3 linked regions of the Homo sapiens genome follow. The protein of the gene in region 2 interacts with the protein of the main gene of each other region in a pairwise test. Each region holds a gene or a part of one and is shown on either strand. Other genes may lie near its edges.

What was found.
Region 1: the proteins of SERTAD2 (region 2) and ESPNL interact in binary tests that used the Homo sapiens proteins (3 or more experiments, as listed by UniProt).
Region 3: the proteins of SERTAD2 (region 2) and PLA2G6 interact in binary tests that used the Homo sapiens proteins (3 or more experiments, as listed by UniProt).

The regions. Positions count from the first base shown.
Region 1 is NC_000002.12:238,096,142-238,103,389, forward strand, and holds the start of ESPNL (espin-like protein), read left to right. Parts: upstream 1-4,198; 5' UTR 4,199-4,278; coding exon 4,279-4,572; intron 4,573-5,799; coding exon 5,800-5,990; intron 5,991-7,248. Other genes in the region: SCLY (selenocysteine lyase), read left to right, coding at 660-735, 2,061-2,214. UniProt on the Homo sapiens protein: Binds to but does not cross-link actin. Required for the formation and maintenance of inner ear hair cell stereocilia and staircase formation. Essential for normal hearing.
Region 2 is NC_000002.12:64,643,858-64,650,963, reverse strand, and holds part of SERTAD2 (SERTA domain-containing protein 2), read left to right. Parts: intron 1-2,397; exon of another isoform or gene 2,398-4,539; intron 4,540-5,392; exon of another isoform or gene 5,393-7,106. UniProt on the Homo sapiens protein: Acts at E2F-responsive promoters as coregulator to integrate signals provided by PHD- and/or bromodomain-containing transcription factors.
Region 3 is NC_000022.11:38,178,788-38,185,970, forward strand, and holds the start of PLA2G6 (85/88 kDa calcium-independent phospholipase A2), read right to left. Parts: upstream 3,044-7,183; 5' UTR 2,877-3,043; intron 1-2,876. UniProt on the Homo sapiens protein: Calcium-independent phospholipase involved in phospholipid remodeling with implications in cellular membrane homeostasis, mitochondrial integrity and signal transduction.

The sequences.
Region 1 (7,248 bases), about 170 Mb from region 2:
AGGCGATCCACCCACCTTGGCCCCCCAAAGTGCTGGGATTACAGGCATGAGCCACTATGCCCGGCCTTGGCTAATTTTTAAAAAATATTTTGTAGAGATAGGGTTTCCCTGTGTTGCCCAGGCTGGTCTCAAACTCCTGGCTCAAGCAGTCCTTCTACCTTGGCCTCCCAAAGTGCTGGGATTACAGGTGTAAGCCACTGCACCTGGCTGAAATTCTCAGGTTAATTACATCAGCAGTCATTAATGGCTGTGCTTGTGAAAGAAGAGGGAAATGCCTTCTGGCTTAATAGAACTCCCACGTGTCTCTACCATCCAGAACACAGGTGGAGACGTGATATTGCCGGGGCTGCCAGCTTGTAAGGAAGGAGCGGGTCAGGACTCCAGGTGTCTTAGCAGGCAGTTGATTACAAATGCGATTTTCAAGGCCAGCTTTGTGAGGCAGAATAGTGTCTGCGTTTGTGCAGCCAAGGGAGAAAGGAAGCGTTTTCTTCGGCTCCTGCTGTGAGATCTCTCCCCAGCTGCCAGAATGGCCAGTGCTGGAATTCCACCAGGTGGCACAGAGGGAGGGAAGCAGCCTGCGCCCAGCAGGACCCCGGGAAGGGACAGAAGGGCAACCTGGCTGGAGCCCCATCTCAGGGGCATGTGCTCTGTCTCCGCAGGCCACGTGGTGCTTGCGCAGTGCCGAGTGCTGATGGCCAGTGTGGGGGCCGCGTGCCACTCGGACCACGGGGACCAGTAAGTGCTCTTCACAAACCCAGTCCAGGGCATAGGGGTCCTCCGGGCACTGGGTGTGGTGGGCAGGCGGCAGGATCCGGCCACTGGGCCGCACTCTGGCTGGTGAAGGACAGCCCTGTCTGGGCCCTAGGAGGGGCAGAGGGAGGGCTTCCTGGAAGAAGTGACTTCCAAGCTGCCATCTGAAGGACTAGGACTTGTGCGGGAGAAGAGGGCTTCTCGTGCTCAGTTCTGAAGGCGGAGGGAGGGCAGGGCCTGGAGGGCCAGCGTGGCCGGGGCTGGGGAGGGCTGGGGCGGGCTGGGGTGGGCTGGGGTGGGGATGGCCTGAGTGTCAGTGCTTACTTAAACCTCATGGAAGTGGGAGCCCTGAGGGCCATGGTGTGAGCAGACTCAGGTGTCAGATCAGCCATCTGCAAGATGCAGCAGAGATTCTCAGATAGCAGGGCCCGGGTGAGCGGGTGGGCTGCCTGGCGGAGACTGTGGGGTAGAGGGCGTGGGGTGCCCGAGCAGCGGCCTGCTGGCAGCAGGGGAGAAGTGGTTCTGGGTCTGGTCTGCTGAAAACGTGAGGCCCCTGTGGGAGGTCGGAGTGGACGCAGGAGGAACACTCAGGGTTCTGGGGAGAGAGCGGAACTGTAGCCAGCAGCACGTGGCCATCAAGGTCAGGGCAGAGGGATTGTGCAGGAGCACCTGGAGCGAGACAGTGGTGGGCCTGGCTCCAGGGAAAAGGAGGGGCAGGATGGGGCCCTTTGTTGGGGGGACAGTGCCCTGCTGCAGGAGGGGCAGGGGAGGAAAGGGACCCGGGTGTGATGAGGTCAGGCCCCTTGACAGAGCCCACATCTCGAGCCTCCAACAGCCTTGCTTCAGGATGTCCCCACGCAGTCATCTGTTCATGGCTAGATACTGACTGGGTCCCTAGTGTCTGCAAAGCCCCATGCTAGGTGCCATGAAGTTACCAAGTGGCTCAGGTGGGCCGCATGGGTAAGGCACTGTCTGTGTCGGCATCCGTGTTCTCCAGGACCTCAGACCCCTCAAGGACAGGAGAGCCCCTGGCCCCAGAGCTCAGTGCGAGAGGGAGGCAGTGTCACCTGGGAGTGCCAAGTGCAAGAGAACTCTGCAGGGAGAACGGGGGCGACTTTGAGCCACACCTTGATGTGGGTGATCTTAGGGGTGTGCTTGGTCTGGGAGTTTAGCAGGAGGTGGATGCCAGGCGAGGCAGGCGCACATCCGGGTGGGCAGAGCCCCACTAGGGGAGTGGTCCAGAGCAGGGGGGGCTGTGTCTCTTCCATGTGCCCTCAGCAGCAGCTGCAGCTCGGTCTCGCCCTCCCCAGGCCGTCCCCAGTGCTGCTGAGCTACGGTGTCCCCTTCGACGTGGCCAGGAACGCGCTCCGGCTCAGCGTGGGCCGCAGCACCACCAGGGCCGAGGTGGACCTCGTCGTGCAGGACCTGAAGCAGGCCGTGGCGCAGCTGGAGGACCAGGCCTAGCACTGGGGCCGCCTTCCCCACCCCGCTTCTGGGAAGCCCGTGGCAGGGCACAGGGTTGTCCCTCCAGTTCCCTCCTGAGGGCTGTGCCAGGATGACTGTCTCATGCCCCCTCTGCATTTTGTCCTGGAGTGCCAGCGAGTGTGCACCCCCAGTTTCCTTCCCTGGACCCCTGCAGAGCTCACAGGGCCCAGGACACCAACGCCGCATAGGACTGCCCACATGGGACCGCCCACATAGGACCGCCCACATAGGACCGCCCACATGGGACCGCCCACATGGGACCGCCCACATGGGACCGCCCACATAGAACCGTCCTCCAGTGGTGAAGCGGAAACACTTAGCTTTATCCACCCTCCCCACTGGGAACTGGGCACGCCTGTTGTGAGTGCCCTTTCCTGGAAGGTGTTTTTATCTGGAAGATAGAATCCAAGTATTTATAACTCATTGTCAGCCAAATGCTATCATGAACGTAGGAAACTTGATTTTTTTGTTTTGATCATGGCCTCTACATGCACCTTTCCAGAGTGGTCTCTTCTCAGGCCCTTTTTAGTCCCTTTCCAAAGCTGCCCCCACCACCCTGCTCCTCTGGCCTCAGTGCACAGTGGCCCCCAGCCTCGGCCAGGCCTGCTCTGCTCAGCGCCCACCGCCCACCACCCCTCCTGCTTCCCCGAGCCTGACCCTGTTCCGCCCACTGGCAATCAGGGCTGCGCACTTCCCTGTCCACGGTCCCCAGGCCTTCCTGTCTTGTCCCTTTTGATCATTATTAACTCAGGGTTTCAGCTCCAACCTCGCTGAGTTGGTGCAGCTCCAGGTCATTCCTGGGGTGGGAATCGGATCATCCCTGACTCAGCTTTTACCTTAATTTTATTTGCAGAGGATTCTTTTCTCAAAATGCTCTGGCATTTGGACACACATCACATGTCGATATTTGCATAGGAGTCATTTTCAGTGGAATAACATTTTTAATGTGTGGTTTTACGGTTCAAGGAACTACTTGATGATTTTGAGGAAACACTTGCCAGAAACTAAATTAACGAATAAAAGATTTCAGTGCCCGACTTGGGGATCCTGTGGTTTCTCTAGTGGGCACTGCGCTTGGGCACAAAGTCATCTGACAGAGCCTGTCGGGGGGAAGCCAGGGGTGCAGCAGCCCCCAGGTCACCATTGTGTGATGATGCGTTAGCCCAGAAATCCAGCTTGAGGCTGTGTCTCCGGAAGCCCCTACAAATGTAATGGGTCCCCCATCTGCAGCTTCCCATTGCTGCCAGGAAGAGGCTGTGGTGGTCCTGACTTCCCTAAAGAAGAACTATGGATTGTCCAGAACAATCTGGAAAGGGGTTAAATGTACTTGGGCCCTTGGGGCTGCAGCCCAGAGACTTGGTCCGTGTAGTTGGAGAGGGGGCCGAGGCAGGGGCTGACACCTTCTCGCCTCAGAGGCCTGGACACACCCAAGTCAGGGTCCTGAGCCCATTGCAGGCCCCGTGGAGCCACTGTGTCCCCAGAGATTCCTAGGAGCCTCCAGGGCCGAGGGCCGGGACCCAGAGGCGGGGCGCTCAGCTCTGTGGGTGTCAACACAGCCAAACATGTAGACCTACTGGGCACCCTTTACTTCAGACACACTGTGGTGGCGGCTGGGGGTCTGCCCTTCTGTGAGAGTTGGGGGAACTGTCTCCCAGGCCACTCGGGGCTCCTGTGAGAAGCTCAGTGGCGTGTATCCTCAGCCCTCGCTCCACAGATGAAGTTCCTGCCATCTGGACAGATCTGAGCAGCCTCAGGGCCAGCCTCCTTTCTCTGCTGGCCATACCCAGCCCTGACCTAGCCTGGTGTGGGCCTTTCCCTGTGCCCTGTACTCCATCCTCCCAGCTCCAGGCACCTGGCACCCTCACACTGTGGGAGTGGCTTGGGCAGGTCCTCAAGGCCTGTCCCCCCACCCGACCCCACCCCACCGCCTCCCATCTGCCCTGTGGCAGCTTATCGGGTAACCAGAGCCGGCAGCTTCATCCACGTCTGAAACAGGAAGCCCCAGCCTGTGCATGAGTCGCCACTGAGAGCCCGGGCCAGAGGATGGAGAAGCAGCGGGCACTCGTGGCCGCCAAGGATGGGGATGTGGCGACGTTGGAGCGGCTGCTGGAGGCTGGCGCCCTGGGCCCGGGCATCACCGATGCTCTGGGGGCCGGCCTGGTTCACCACGCCACCCGGGCTGGCCACCTGGACTGCGTCAAGTTCTTGGTGCAGCGGGCCCAGCTGCCCGGCAACCAGCGGGCCCACAACGGGGCCACCCCAGCGCATGACGCCGCTGCCACGGGCAGCCTGGCCGAGCTGTGCTGGCTGGTCCGCGAGGGGGGCTGCGGTCTGCAGGTGAGCGGGGATGGGGCAGCCTGGCTCCACGAAGCTGGCTGGGGTGGAACCAGGGAGGTGTGAGCCACGGAGGATCAGAGTACTGGCCACCCCGGGCTCCATGGCCCTGGGCCCTTTGTTTCTCTTGGGGACTCAGTCAGTGGTTACCGTCTCTGCCCCACGCCTCTCAGAGCACAAAGGCTTGAGAGCCAAGAACACCTCCTAAATTTTCTTATCACCTTCCCTGCCAGGAAGCTGGGCGTTGCCAGTGGGGGTCTTGCCAGATATCAGGACCCCTGTCTCTGATCAGGCCTGGTCCACAGGGCCTGCCTCCCAAAGGGTCTAGAAAGGGATCCTTACAGAAGCACTGTGGGAACTTGGGCTTGAGAGCTGGGAGCCTAGCCCTGGGGGACGGGAGTTAGGGCTGCTGATGGTGATCGTCTTGTCCGGATCGTTTCTACTGGGCCCCCCTCCCCTATCCTGCCTGCCCAGTCCCCTTTGTGCAGGCGAGGCCCTTAGAGCTGTCGCTCAGCCCTGTGGAGCTTTCAGGGCTGAGGGTGAGCAGGACTGACCGGCCTTAGAACGCCGCCGCCCAGAGGTCAGAGTTGAGGTGGGGGCCGGTGGGGCCTGCTTAGACTGCGGAGCGGGAAGGTTCCCCAGCACCTGGCTCGCCAGAGCACCTGAGAGTCCCGGCCCAGCATCCTGTTCCTGTCGGCCCTTCCGCCAAACCCAAGGGCAGCAGGCGGGAGCTGTGCCTGCCTGGGGATCCATTCTGACAGGGCCCTTGGAGAAGGCCCAGGTCTGCTGGACCCCTGACACCTGTGGTAGGAACGCTCCCTGGCCCCGGGACCCTGTGGCCAGCGGGAGGGCACTGGGGCAGGGGACCAGCCAGAGGTAGGTGTCCTGGGAAGCCTTTCTGACCATGAGCAGAGTGGGCAGGTGTCTGCGGGCACCCGACTGCGTGGGAAAGGGCCTTCTCCACACTGGGGACGGGCCCAGGAGAGGGCAGGGTTGCCAGAGGTGGCCTCCCAAGACCTGGACCTGAGTCCTGGCCCTCCTCTCACCTCAGTCCCAGCAGGGAGCACCTCCCTCCATGTTGCAGGCAGAAACGGAGGGAAGGAGGAAGGAGCTGGAAGCCCCTTCACTGGGTTGCAGGCAGTGTGAGCCCTCGCCCAGGGCCCACCTCCGGCAGCTGGCTCTGACCTCACGGCCTACCCCCCACTCACTGACCTACCCGGGGCTTGGTAGGACCAAGATGCCTCGGGCGTCTCCCCGCTGCACCTGGCCGCCCGTTTTGGACACCCAGTGCTGGTGGAGTGGCTGCTCCACGAGGGCCACTCGGCCACGCTAGAGACCCGGGAGGGAGCCCGGCCGCTGCACCACGCTGCCGTCAGTGGGGACCTGACCTGCCTCAAGCTCCTGACAGCCGCGCATGGCAGGTAAGGAGCCCAAAGTCCCGCCTGGGGGGGCAGCCTGGGGCGAGCTGGCCAAGGGGAGGCTGCACCATGGAGGGCCAAGAGGACAGGCTGGTGGCCTTTGAGGTGAATCCTGCAGGCGGGCATGCTGTCACTGTGGGGGTGAGCTGGCAGGAGCCAAGGGCAATGAGGCCTCTACCCACAGGCCAGGCAGTGGCAGTGCCATGCCAGGGCCCAAGGGGACACAGGCCAGTGCTTCAGCTTGGAGAGTGGCTGGGGGCGGTGACGATGGCAAGATGCTGCTGTGATGCCCAGGGCAGCTCTGGCCCCACCTGGGGGCATCTCGGGACCTAAAACAGCTGGGGACGTGGGCAGCTGGCAACCTGTGAGGGCACCCTCCCATCACCTGACAGGAGTGGGGACTGTCTAGTGGACTTGGGGACACAGAGGCTGGAGCTGCCTCTGCACTGCCCCACCCCTGTGCTGGGACCCCTAGAGCCGGGCGCTGGCCTCATCGTCTCTGGGGCCCTGTGCCCCCTGCTGGAATTAGTGGATGGGCAACGAGGAAGGACCAGGGTCAGGACAGCCAGTAAGGCAGATGGCCTCCCTCCCCACCTGGAAGCTCCTCCAGTCCTCGCCCTGCTTACAAAGGTCACTGTTGTCATAGGAACAGGCCCTCTGCCTCCTACTGTCTTGGCTGAGGGCGAACCTTCCTGTCCCCCAGGGACCCACCTACCTCTGACCACGGCTCTTCTCTTTTCGAGGCAGCATCTCATTTTCCTGTCGCTGCCCCAGAGGCCTCAGTCCCCCACACCCCCTTAGCTCCAGGACAAGCCCCGACAGCTTGCTTGTGGAATCGGGTTCTCATTCCCGGGTGTTCCCATCCTGGACTGCTTGGCAAAGGCCTTTGGGATTCGCTTCTGTGGCTTTTCTCCAGAGCGTCCACACCACCCTCAGCCTTGGCTGGCCACAGTCTCTCTCAGACCCACACGGCTTTTAAAGAAGTTTCCACCATTGAAAACTGGGAGACTTGGGCCGAGCACAGTGGCTCATGCCTGTAATCCCAGCATCTTGGGAGGCTGGGGCTGGAGGATTGCTTGAGCCCAGGAATTCAAGACTGGCCTGGGCAATGTAGCGAGACCTCCATCTCTACAAAAAAATTTATTTAAAAATTAGCCAGGCATGGTGGTGACTGCCTGTAGTCCCAGCAACTCAGGAGGCTGAGGTGGGAGGATCACTTGAGTCTGGGAGGCGGAGGTTGCAGTAAGCTGGGATTGTGCCA
Region 2 (7,106 bases):
AGAGAGAGCAAGCGCAGGCGCCGTCTCTGATTACTGAGTCCAAAGATCAGTTGTGTACTGAAGGCACCAGAAGGCAAGCTCCAGTTGACATGAAAATGGCCTCACAATAAGGGTGACACCAGCTCTCATAGGTCTTTCTGTTAATTAATACTGACTAGCAAAACATGAAAATCTAAAAGTGCCATGGCCACTTTATATGCACAACTCATATATTTTGTACATATTGTTAATAATTACTCATTAAGCAATTGGTAGAAAGCCACAAGCCAGGACTCCTGTTTAAGAAATGTGTGGCTATTTCATTTAGTTTTAGTATGTTTGAAGGAAATGGCTACTAATCTAGAAAAAATGATTGTCTCAAATGGCCAGTGCAGTTGATATTAAAGGCAAACTTATGCCCTGTGTGCAGATGCTGGGAAACCCTTATGAACAGAACTGTCCCCTGGAGCGTCCGTCACTCATTGTGTGGAGCAGTGTCTTTCTCCATTAGCACTGTGTGGCAGTTCATTCTTTGTATGAATCTGTGAATGGCATATGTCAGCCCAATAAGACGACATTCCTATTCTGAGTAATAAATAGACTCCTTGTTTTGTTTTTTTTTTCTCGGAGATCACGAGACAAACAAAACATGATTGGCTGTCTAAAAATTTTCTTTGAAATACAAATGAAAATTTTAAAGTAAAATATCACAATATATTTTATAATATATGATTTCTAATAGGACAGAACAGATACTGCCAGTTTGAACAAGCACCACATATAGACAGCGCAAACTCTCTTTTGAAAATTCTGCCCTCTTTGTGGTCTGAGGGATCCCAAAGCTGGAAAGACCCATTTGTCTTTTCTCAGAATCCTCTGTCCCTCATCTGAACTTAATGCTAGGATTCTCTGAAGTAAACCCCACAATTTGATTGATCTATTTTGGAAACCCAAGATCACCTAAGCTGTATTCCGCACCCATTGCAGTTTTCAGCTCAGAATGGAGTTGGCATCTGTGCTCCTGGCCGGCCTATTCTTACACTTGCACACTGTCTGGCCAGAGCTGGCCCTGCCTCCCCACAGGGACAGCAGATCAAGGGGTGAGTGTGCCCGGCCCACCTCCACCCTGAGTAGAGAGTGGACTGAGCTATGCGGAGGCGTGGGGTGGGGGCTGGAGGGAGAAGAGCAGAGGACAGATCTGGAGCTGACTGTGCAACTGCTATAGCAGGTCTGACTAGTTTGAGGTGCCCAAAGGCAGCTTTGTTTCTCTAGTAACTCCAGGTAGCAGCAAACTTCAGTTCTTAAAACTCATTCATGTCTGCCTTACTATCTTTTTTGTCACTTTACAAAAACCTGTAGCTTTGCAGAGTTACTAATTAATTCTAAGCTTTTTTCCTTTAAAAACCTTCCTAGGCAGTTAACTGAAAAGAAGCTAAGCATTCTCTAAGGACTTTCCCATAGAATAGTAAAGGGGAAGGGATTCTGGTTCTTACAGACATGATCTATGTCTATATATTCTGTATATCCATATGCACACTCACTGATGTTTAACAGTGGGCTGAGTGAACCTGTTGAAGAAAAGTAAAATGTACACTTGAATAGACCATGGTCAAAAACACTAAATGATCAAAAGTCTCTTGCTCCAGATCAGCCTTTAGCGCTTTGCTTGCCTCTGCTCCGGCCGGCTGCTTATCATTCCACGCCATGCACTGCAGCTCCTGGGGTTTGGAGCAGGCCTGCTGGTGTACCCCACCCTTGTGTTTAGAAGTATTGCCCAAGTTAAACTCAGAGAATCTGAAAGTCCCAAGGTCATCTCTACACCAGAACAGGTTTGCATAAAATCCTAGTCACGCTAATGAGATATCGAGCTGGCAGCTGCTTTAAACTGATCTTCCCTGTGTGGTTATCCCATTTTATAATAGGTGATACAGATTTGCTTTTCAGATTTCTTTCCTTCTTTGAGGGGACATCTCCCTGCCCATCTGTACCTCTCCTGTGTCTTCCGTGCTATCAGAGAAAACCAATCTGCCTGAGGAATTTGGGTGCTATGATCCAGAGTGGAAGAATTTTTGCTCTGCCTCTCTGCTTGTCAGGAACTTGGTGGTCTTTTCTGAACTTTTTAAGGCAAACTAATTTTTTTAAATAGTTTTACCATGTCCAGAAATATAAAATAAAATACGTTTCACTGGCAGTGATTCTTAGCTCTCTGACAAGTAGTTGGTTTACACATTAAAAATTCAATTCTTCAGGTGGTTCCTGCCTCCTTCTAAAGCTCCAGAAGACAGGTAGAATGAATAGAGTGGCAGGCTGGGGGTGGCAGGCTGGGGAGGTTGAGGAAGGCTTTCCATGAAGACCATTGAAGGTAATTGAAGAATTATGAAGTATTTTCCTTAGAAAATAAATAGTTATTACATTTAGTGTGGTACTCTGATTATTTTTATTGTATTTAAGTGACATAGCTTAAAGTTCAATGAGCCATTCATTATCAATGCACAGAAGTCCTTGGGAAGACAAACATTTTATCTCAAAATAGTCCCAAAGTAGTTATTCTTTAATGGCTGCCATATTTACAAAGTATCATTTACTCCCCTCAAGTTTAGTTGTATCCTCATTGCCTTTTTCTTTCTACAATTATTGTCTGTGTGTGAATTATTCAGGTATATGATACAAAGTTTAAATTGTCTTTGTAAAACCTTATTAGCCTACCTAATTCTTAGAGGCAACCAAATTAAACATTCGGAACATGTAGGTTACTTACATGGGACAGGTATTACATAAAATAGTTATTTCCTTCCATTTGCATGTCTCAAGTATATTTCTATTATCCTGCACCTCAAATTTTTGTACTCATGTCATGTTGTAGAAATGTGATATTGTTCTCTAGGGAATCCAAGTTTAGGCCGTACAATACAATGTTCAGTTTTACACAGTAAGTAAAAGAAACAACATTTCTCAGGTTTTCCTCTTTGGACTGCACGGATAAGTTATAAGATGAAATATGTTCTGTATTTGTAAGGAATATTTTAAGTGATTCTTTGATAGTAATGAAGCATCCAGATTTGAAGGCATGACTAGTTTTTAATTTTTAACTTTTAAGAAAAGCTTCCATTGAAGCATTTCTTGAAGTAGCATACTTTACTTTTATTCCTTAGTTTTATTCAGTGGCAAATAGTTGTCTAATAAAACCTAGAAGGCCACCTTTGGTTTTAACTAAGATGTAATTTTATCTTTCACAGAATTGTTCTAAAACCTTATATTTCCCTGTTTTAGTAAGACTTACATATATCTTGAGTCTTTTTTTTTTTTTTTAAACACAAAAACTGTCACATACTTTTGGCAAAGCCTTTCCTTTCTACTCTAAGTTCCCCACCTCCTTGACATTGTTTATTAAGGGTCTCTAGTGTGAGGGAGAAAAACAGTGTATCTTTAGGGAAAAGATGCTACAGGAGGATTGAAACAGAATCCCATCCAAGCAATTATAAATACAGGAGAAAAAATATTTTCATTATGCCCGAGAATGGGAGGTTGGGCAATGCTGGCTAGTCTTTACTAGTAAAGCACGTAATCTTATGGGAAAAATTGTCAAATCTGAGAGTTCCTTACCCTAATGTTAATGAGGCCTTAGACTCAAAATGCTAAAAACATACTCTGACACCAAATTATTATGAAGTAGTATCACAATTCAAATGATTATAAAATATAGATATGTTTATAGTTTCCAATTTTCAAATGTGGAGACTCATTATAACATTTCATCTATTATGAGCATTATTATTGAACATACAACATCATATAACCTGAACTTATAATTTAAATAGAAAGAATCCCAGCAAGTAGTTACACATAATGATCTCGCTTCATCATCTCCCTAAGGTTAACTGTGTTACATTTTATAATTAAATGGCCCCTCTCCAATGTCCTTTATGAAGGGTTTTCCCAAATAACTGCCTGAAGCAGTATCTGTTCAGTATGGAGATAATTTATAGTTATTAAGAAGTAGTAAGTAGGCCCAGTAAAGGCGTCTATCTATACTGGTAAAAGCTTAGTGCCGAATTTATTGAGACTCATTGTTTTATTGGGAGTCCATGTTGCAAGCCCCACTGGAAATTCTGAACTGTTGGTTTCTCCACGTTCACATCTCATGACTTGGGTGTGTGTTTGTTGTTGTGTGTTTGTTCTCATTTCAGGAATCCTCCAGGGATTTTAACCATGGTTTTTGAAATACCAGTATTAACTTTTATATACAGAGAAACAACCTTTCCTATACACAGTACTTCCAGAGTTTGAACCGTACCATAATTTAATTTATTTTGGCCTTGGCAAAGCTCCCAGCTTGCTTAGCAGTGTCCTGTGGATACCTGAATTTGGAAACAATCTTGAAAATGTGTATACTTTGAGAGAGCTGTAGGTAGAAATTGCAGTGAAGAATGAGACTTTTGCGCTCCTTGCTGCTCGGCTGCGCCCCCTCGTGGCTGGATGTGATGTGCTGTCTTCCAGAATTTAAAGAGTTCCAACTTGAATTGGGCGTGCTTGTTTACATGGAGCACTAATAGCTTTCTTCTGTGTGAAGAAAAAAAAAAAACCCTATCAAATTAATATAATAGTTTTCACTGGGGGTGTGAGTAATTTATTGTGCTCATTTTATATGTTTTAATTTAGAAATATGTATTGGCGTGCTGTGGTTTTTAACTTTTTATTATGGAAAATTCCAAACACATTCAAAAGTAAAAGGAAGAGTACAAAGCACCGCCTTGTACTTATCAGCCAGCCTCAGCAGGTATCAACATTTTGTCAAATCTTGTTTCATCTACATGGCCAGGTTTTGGGTTTTTTTTTGTTTGTTTGTTTTGGAGTATTTTAAAGCAAATTCCAGGCATCAGAGCATATTATGTTTTTGTTAAGTTAAGGTTAGAAACTGTATAATTCTACTCAACCTTTTACTTGAATTAAGTGTGCCATTCCCAAGTAATCCTTTTTCCTTATAAATTAAAAAAAATTCCTTAAAACTGAGAAAACAAAGCATTTTTCTAATTTTTTTTTAAATCAAGTGTACCATACTTTTAGCCAGAATCCTTAGATAAAATAAAACAATTGGCAGCATTCTCATTGTCCTTGGAAGAAGGTAATTGGTGTCCATAGCTTCATAAGAGTTGGGATTAAAACTTAAAATTCCCAGCTGGCAGAGGAACCACTAAGACAGGATATAAGAAACATTTTATACCACTTGACATTTATATTCTAAAAAGCCTATTCTCTTTCCAGATGTGTACTAACAAGGCCATAATTTATTCTAAAGAAATATTTACTTGAAACATTCCCTCCCAGAATTTGACTATGTTTTTGCTTACTAAATGCAGCTGTCAACATTTTTAAAAAATTATTTTACTAGGAGAAAAGTTTATATTTGACAAACCTCCAGTATTGGAAATTGCCTTCAATTTAATAGGAGCATGTAAAAATCTGAGAGGAGAAACTAGAATTTTAAAAATTTGGACTTTAGAAAACAACCCCAAACAGTAAAAGTTGTTTCTTAAATTTACTTGGGGCTTGACTTCCTGTTCGAATTTCAGTGTATCGTCAGGCTTTTTTTTTCTTCTTCTTCTTCTTCACTGTCAAGAAAGCCGGGAGGATTGCTCCTGCAGGTCTTCGTCAAATGCAGGGTCTCATCTTGCACAAACAGCCTAGGCTGCGTTGCCCTGCGGGCCCCCGCGCGGCCGGTGCGCAGCGGGAGAGCCCGGAGGAGGCGCCGGCAGCAAACAGTGGTATCGGGTTACAGGTTCAGAATATCGCTGGAGCACAGGAGACTGGCTTGATCTAGTGACTGGCTTTATAATTACATTGCTGATTTGTTAGGGGAGGCTTTGTCTTACTTACCAATTAGCATGGATGTTACTGCAGGGACCTCAGACATTCTGGATGAGCTTTGGTGTTTTTTTTTTTTTTTTAAAGCATCCCGATCCATAGAACTTCATGAGTTCTGTTACTAATACTCCGCCTTGTCTTTGGGCATCCTTACTTACCCTGTCTGTAAATAAGCCAGAGACGGTCTCTCCCTGTTGGAATTTTTGCCCACTCCCCTGGGCCAGACGCAGTTGTTTTGGGGTCTCAGGTTTGCTTTTGCTGTTTGGATGCCCCAGCACCTTCCCGCACTGTGCTGGAGGGGACAGCCCACATCCCGTGCCTGCTGCAGTGTCAGGACACGCGAGGCCCGGCTGAGGACGCGCCTGTTTCTCTTAGCTTCCTTTCTGATTCTGCCAGTATCATCCACCACTGCAACCTTTTCAGGGCAGCCTCTTTGTTTTCGCTGGTGTGTTTTATTGTTCCTTGGGGGAGGAGGGTGTTAAAAGCCTGGACATGATCAGATTTCTTAGTCCAGTGTGTTGTTTAAGGTGTAATATTTGAAGTGTAGAAAGTTGTCTAAGCAAACAGCTTCCCCCAGTTAGGATCGGGCTTCTCCTTCCTGCTCGGAAGTTGCTGTGTCACACTACGACAGCAGCCTGGAGGCAGGGCTCTGGGGTCCTCAGCGTCCCGCCCTCAGGCTGGTGGGAGGTTCCCTTTTGTCATGAACAGAGGCTCTCCCACTTGGATGCCTCAAAAGCAGGGTCCTAAACGCACTGGGAGACCAGCCTGTGGAGTGAAGAGAAGAGAAACAGCATATTCTGTGTTTCAGAAGTTGTCTCAAAACAATCCTGGCCCTACTTTGAGCCTCTTTTCGGCTCAGAAGTCTGCCACATGCCCAGCTAATTTTACCAGGGGCACCCCTTTCTTCTACCACCACCACCAAAAGACACCAGGAGTATGAATGTGTTTCCACTTAGGGCTGTGGGCTTTGGTGGCACAGTATGTCAGGGGAAGGGAAGGACCGCTGCCAGCCTTCTCATAAGACAATCGCCACACTTCTTTTTTCTTCCAAAGAGGTGGGTACATGAGGGCAGATCACTACTTTGAGTGTTGGCGTTGGGTTAAAGGCCTCATCTTTCTGGTTTTAGCGTTAGCATTGACACCTCTAGACTTGTCAGCAACCAGTGGTCACACCAGCAGCCATATGGGACAGTGTGTCTGATGAGGTTAGGGATACAGCTTGGTGTTTTTTTTGTTTTGTTTTGTTTTGTTTTTTTGGAGACGGA
Region 3 (7,183 bases), on a different chromosome or scaffold from region 2:
CCCAGGAGGCGGAGGCTGCAGTGAGCTGAGATCGCACCACTGCGCTCCAGCCTGGGCAACAGAGTGAGACCCTGTCTCAAAACCAAAACAACCAACCAACCAAAAAAAACCCCACAAAATCCCTGACATCCTGGAACTTATATTTTAGACAGAGCTACTAATAATAAAGAAGATAAACAGGTAAATATTTACAAAGGTTTTAGATGACAATTAACTACTGAGGAGAAAAACCAGAGAATGGGGATAGGAAGTGCTGAGGTGGAGAGTGAAATTTTAGATTGGGTGAGGAGAGAAGTCTTCACCAAGAAATTGATCTTAAATAAATACCTGATGGAGAGAGATGAAAGTCATATGAATAGCTAGGCAAAGAGAGCGTGTGCAAAGGCCATGGGGCTGGAACATGTTTAGCGAGTTCCAGGAAAAGCAAGGAAGCCAGTGACATCAGAGAGGCAACAGGGGGCCAGGCATGTGCCATGAGAGGAGAGGCCACTGCAAAGAAACAACATTTTAACAAGATCACTCTGGCTGGGTGTGGGGTAAGAAACAGAGAGGCATCATAGATAATCTCACAGCTTTGACCTGAGCAACTGAATGAACAATACTCCTATGTCCTAAGATGAGAAAGAGAGTGGGAGGGACATGTTTTGGTGAAGAGTGGGGTCAGGGATGGAGGGCAGAACTAACAGGAGCTCAATTCTAAACTCTTAAGTTTGAGGCCTGGCGCGGTGGCTCACACCTGTAATCCCACCACTTTGGGAGGCCAAGGCAGGTGGATCACTTGAGATCAGGAGTTCGAGACCAGCCTGGCCAACACGGTGAAACCCCGCCTCTACAAAAATACAAAAATTAGTTGGGCATGATGGCGCATGCTTGTAATCCCAGCTACTTGGGAGGCTGAGGCAGGAGAATCAGGAGGTGGAGGTTGCAGTGAGCCGAGATCGTGCCATTGCATTCCAGCCTGGGTGACAGAGTGAGACTCTGTCTCAAAAAATAAATAAATCAATAAATAAATACTTCAAGTTTGAAAAGCCTAAGTTTGAGGTGCTGAGTAAGCAACTAGATTTGAGTATGTCATTCCAGGGAAAGGTCTGGACTGGACTGGGGATATAAATTTGTGGGCTGACAGAATAGAGACGGCACTTAAAGAAATAAGACTGGATGAGATCACCATCCGAAAACGAGAAGAGGCATTTAAGACATGACCCTATCAAAATCCACTGTGAAAGACACAGAACATATTCTCCCAGGGAGCCACCCTCTACAAAGTGAAGTTTGTAACACACTCTTCACTACGGCCCCTTACTCCTTGCCTACCTACTTCCCCCAGCACACACACCCAATAGATGTCTGCAGACACACACACACACACACACACACACACACACACACACACACAGAGTATTTAAATTTCTCCTTTCTGTATCTCTTAGTGATGTCATTCTGCTGAGTAAGAGGGAAACTCCCTTTTGGGGAGTCTCTCATGTAACAAGAAAGTAATCCACGGAAGGAACAAGAAGTGTCCTAAACAGTAGCAAACCTTACACATCAGGACAATCACACAGGCTCTGGTGTCAGATTCCAGCTTCAACCTCATCGGTGTGACCTCAAGCAACTCATGCGCCCTCTTTTTCTCATGTGAAGTGAGAATATCATTGGCCACACCAAGGGTAGCCTAGAACATCAGACAGTCCGTAAATATTTGTTAGATAAACGATGACTGAATGAATGGTGAAGAGAACATATACAGAAGAGCCTGACTCACAAGAGGTGATGAACAAACACTGCCAAATGATACACTGAAAGACAAGGGACCTCCTGCTCATCCTTCTCTCCTTGTCTTCTCATTCTAGCCCTTTCCCTTTCCACTCCTTTCAATTCTGCCTATGACCCAACAGTAAAATCATGTATTTGTACAGGGCCATACTGGTTATAAAGCTTTACCTTCTACATTTTCTCATTCAAATTTTGAACCTCATGGCAGACTTACGAGGGCAGGAGGTACAGTTCCCCTGTCACAGATGAGGAAACTGAGACTTGGACAGAAAACAGGTTCCAAACTCCAGGCAGAAACTCTAACAAAAACAATGCATTCAAAAACAATGCATTCAGCCCAAGGGTGCAGCCTCAACGTTGCCAAACCGAACCTGCCTGACATCCTGTTGGGCGGGTAAGAGGCAGGTGAGGGAAAGACCCAGAAGCTAGGGGGAGGTATTCGTTGGGGTCATGTGGGTAGCCCATTAAAAATACGGCCACAGGTCCCCTTGCCCTGTGCCCTCCCTGTCCCACACCCACAGGCTTGCCCCGACCCAGTCCCATGATCACCCTGGTCACATGCTCCCTGTCACCAGCTTCCAAGTCATCTGTGGGAGCAGGAGGTGGACACAGGATTAGGGGTGGGAGACTCTGGGGTGGCCAGGCTGAGGGGAAGGAGGGAGCATGTCGGGGGCAGGTCTGGAGGCACGCGAGAGAGGAAAGGCAAGGAAAAAAAGCAGGGAGGAAAGGCAGGAGAAGCAGGGAGTGAGAAATGAGTAGAGGCACCACGAAAGGTGGAGACGGACGTGAAGTGGGGAATCAAGTGAGCACTTAGAGGAGCACAGGAAGGAAAATTAGGACGGCCAATGGGGCCTAAAGAGGCACTGAGGGTCGGGGAAAGAGAAGAGATGGATTGACTCGGGAAGTTAGGGATACTGAGGGAGACACACGGAGGAGACTGGGGTTCAGGGGAGAAACTCAGGGTCGAAGCTGGGGTCCCTGGGGTCCACAAGTTCGAGATGAGACACGGGCGGTCTCGGGATGGGAATTGGGGACGCAGGGGGATGAAAAGATGGAAGGTGGGGGCACTCAGGGAGTCACATAAGGGTTAATGGAGGACATGCCTCAGAATCGGAGACACGAGGAATATCCAAAGGAGGGTCCGGCGGAGACTTGGGAGTCCGGAGCGCCGAGGAAGTTGGGGAACGGACCCCCAGGCCCCGCCCACCCGCGAGGTCACTCACCTCGGCTTACTCAGCACTTCTACTTCCTCCTACTTCCGCAAACAAACGGGCCTCGGGCCACGTGATGGCCTGACCACCGCTCTCCGCCAATCACTGGTGGCCCTGTCCCAGGCCTCCTCTAGGCTCCGCCCCCGCGCCCGAGGACGGCGGGAGGCGGGGTCCGCCATTTTTTTTAACTGCCCAATGGAAGGGGCTCCCTTAGCCAGGAGGACGAGCTTTCGGCGGGAGCCAATCCTCGGCGGCGAGGCGCGGCCATGTTTGTGCGGGGCAGAAGGTGCCCGGCTTCTTGGCAGTCCTGTTGATGAGGGCCAGGAGTCCTACCCTAGTCCGCCTTCCGCCTCCTAAAGCGACCAGAGCCTGGAGTCTGAAGTTACTGTTAATGATTGCTCGTAAAGATAAAAATAAAGGCAACAGAGGCATAGGGCATAACAAGGAGGAACCTGTTTTGATTTTTGCCAGGTAGCCTCAAGCCAGGGTTGCCAGATGTAGCATATAAAAAATACGGGATGTTAAGTTACATTTGAATTTCAGCTAAACAGCCAATACATTTTTTTCCGATAGAACAGAAATTGATTATAGCTTTTTTATTTTTCACAACTAAGGCCAAATTCCCTAGGGGAATTACCACATGTCCTTTTTTTTTTTTTTTTTGAGACAAGTCTCGCTCTGTCGACCATGCTGGAGTGCAGTGGCACGATCTCGCTCACTGCAACCTCCGCCTCCCGGATTCAAGCGATTCTCCTGCGTCAGCCTCCCGCGTAGCTGAGATTGCAGGCGCCCGCCACTACGCCCAGCTAATTTTTTGTATTTTTAGTAGAGACGGGGTTTCACCATGTTGGCCAGGCTGGTCTCGAACTCCTGACCTCAAGTGATCTGCCCGCCTCAGCCTCCCGAAGTGCTGGGATTACAGGCGTGAGCCACCACGCCCGGCTCCGAAATTTTTAACATAAGTATAATATACTAAGTTTAGTATTGTGTTAAAAATGTGTGCATTGTTGTCTGGCAACACACCCTGAGCCAGTCTCAGGAAATACCTTAGCACTTTCAGTAGGAACTTGGGCAAATGATCTCTGTGAACCTCAGACCCATCATCCAGGAAGTGGGCACAGTAATACAAGATTGTTGTAATATCTAGAAGTAAATTGGTCCCCATTCGTGCACATAGTGGGATTTCAATAAATGGCAGTTGTTAGGGTTAATAATGCCGATAATGAGGTATTTTGCAGAGAAGCCAGGAGACTAGACTTTAGTCACACATCTGCTTCGGACTGAGCAGGTCATGTCCTCTCTTCAGCCCACTGGCTTGGTTGGACCTTTTCTTTCCCTAATAATCACCCAACCCTAGGTCTAGATGAATCTGCCAGACTGCTCTCCATTTACGTGGGAAGTATAGTTGCGGGTGTCATTCTTGTGAAAAGAAGCGTGTAGGCCGGGTGCGGTGGCTCACGCCTATAATCCCAGCAGTTTGGGAGGCTGAGGCGGGTGGATCACTTGAGGTCAGGAGTTTGAGACCAGCCTGACCAACATGGTGAAACCCCATCTCTACTAAAAATACAAATAATTAGCTGGGTGTGCTGGCCATAGTCTGTAGTCCCAGCTGCTCAGGAGGCTGAGGCAGGAGAATTGCTTGAACCCAGGAGGCAGAGGTTGCAGTGAGCCAAGATCATGCCACTGTACTCCAGCCTGGGTGACAGAGCCAGACTCTGTCTCAAAAAAAAAAAAAGTGTGTTTCCTCCTTAGTCCGTCTAAAGATATTAGTGCCTAGACAGGGCAGCCAATGCAACTTGCGCAAGGTTTAGTTAAGAATCTTCACAGGTTAATGAAATTAACCATCTTAACTAATATCTGTACAGAGCTTTACCAGTTACAAAGTGACTTCACTTCCATCATATCCTCGTGTCCCCATTTTACAGGTGAGGAAATTGTTCCTTAAAGTAAGATTTAAAATTTGCTTAAGAGTTTCAGCTTGACTGCGCACAGTGGCTCACGCCTGTAATCCCAACACTTTGGGAGGCCGAGGTGGGCAGATCACTTGAGCTCAGGAGTTCAAGACCAGCTTGTGCAACATGGAGAAACCTCGTCTTTAAAAAAAATACAAAAATTATCCAGGTGTGGTCTTGCATGCCTTTGGTCCCAGCTACTGTGCAGGGGAGGCCGGGGGGTCAAGGATGCAGTGAGCCAAGATCGCCTGCACTCCAGCCTGGGTGACAGAGCGAGACCATGTCTCAAAAAAAAAAAAAAAAAAGTTTCAGCTTGAAGTGGAGAGAAAAGGATAAAGACTCAGAATTCTCAATGAAAATATCTTGCCTCCACACCCCAAACAAGCAAAGTTAGAGCGATGGTTATCAAGGAGCTTGCAAAAGGCCATGCATTCCACGCACTGCCAAGCAATCTTTCCTTCCTGAGAAAACCCACAGGGGCAACATGAGGTGTCCCATTCTTCAACAAACACCCACCCTTGCATTCAGGATTTTGCAAAGCACATTTGGAAATGCAGATACACAGGTGAATCTAAAATGCAGACAAGGGCCAGGTGTGGTGGCTCATGCCTATAATCCCAACACTTTAGGAGGCTGAGGCGGGTGGATTACCTGAGGTCAGGAGTTCGAGACCATTCTGACCAACATGGTGAAACCCCGTCTCTACAAAAAAATACAAAAAAATTAGTCAGGCGTGGTGGCAGGCAACTGTAATCCCAGCTACTGGGGAGGCTGAGGCAGAAAAATCTCTTGAACCCAGGAGGTGGAGGTTGCAGTGAGCTGAGATCACACCAGTGCCCTCCAGCCTAGGCGACAGAGCAAGACCCCATCTCAATAAATAAATAAATAATAAAATGCAGAAAAGGCCAAGAGAGGCTGGATCAATTGCTGGAAACAGTCAAAGATCCACAGAAGACATTCACAAAATAGAATCTCAGTACCTGATGAAGTTAAGTATCCCTTCCCTAGGTATTTCTGGTGGAAACCATTTAATGAGTAGATAAATCAAAAGATGGAATAGAGGGGATTATTAGGTAGCATTGAATGAGCAAGTAAAGGGATGGGGCAAGTAAGCACGAGGGAGTGTGTTCTGTAGTGCTAGCAGATGGAGCTGCTAGCAGTTAAAGTCAAAAGAACTTCTCCTGAGGTGTTGTGCTAGGCTCCTCCCATACATCAGGGAGGGCGTCTGCCCTCTAAGAGCCCAGAGCACAGAGGGTCAGACTAGACTAATCTTTTCCTTCAAGGAGCTAGATGGAAATCTAACTAACATGCTAACAGTGCAATATCACACCTTTTACTTTTTTTTGGAGACAGAGTCTCCCTCTGTCACCCAGGCTGGAGCGCAGTGGCGCGATCTTGGCTCACGGCAACCTCCACCTCCCAGGTTCTAACTGATTCTCCTGCCTCAGCCTCCCGAGTAGCTGGAATTACAGGCGTGCACTACCACGCCTGGCTAATTTTTGTATTTCTAATAGAAACGAGGTTTCACCAAGTTGGCCAGGCTGGTCTCAAACTCCTGACCTCAGGGGATCCACCCGCCTCAGTCTCCCAAAGTGCTGGGATTACAGGTGTGAGCCACCACCCCCAGCCGACTTCTTACTTTTTTATCCTTGCAACAGCCCTGTGATATAGTACTGCCATCCCCACTTTGTAGATGAAGAGAATGAGGTTCCACAAGGGAAAATTATCCCCAGAGTTGCCAATGAGAGGCAGTGCCAGTTGCCAGTGTCAACGAGAGGCAGAACCAGAATCAGCACCTGTCTTGTCTTTTCTCTCTCCAAACTCTAGGAGCACTCATTATGTGCCAGGCAGTGTTCTTGGTGCACGTGTAATCCCAGGCACTGAACAAAATGGACAAAAATCCCTGCCTTTGTGCTGCTCACATCCTGGTGGGGAAAGACGGAGAATAAACTAGATAGAGAAGGAAACAGAGAGTGTGTTTTGCTAATGTCTTTGAGTGAGGGTGTCATCATGTTAGCATCTTACATTCAAAGCACCTTAACTGTGGGATCTGGGCATGTCTATTTGAATACCTTTGCACTAGTCCTCCAATTATCTGTGTGTTTGAACTTTTTCTTTCTTTCTTTCTTTTTTTTTTTTTTTTGGAGACAGGGTCTGGCTCTCTCACCCAGGCTGGAGTGCAGTGGGGTGATCTTGGCTGACTGCAATCTCTGCCTCCTGGGCTCAAGCGATCCTCCCATCTCAGTG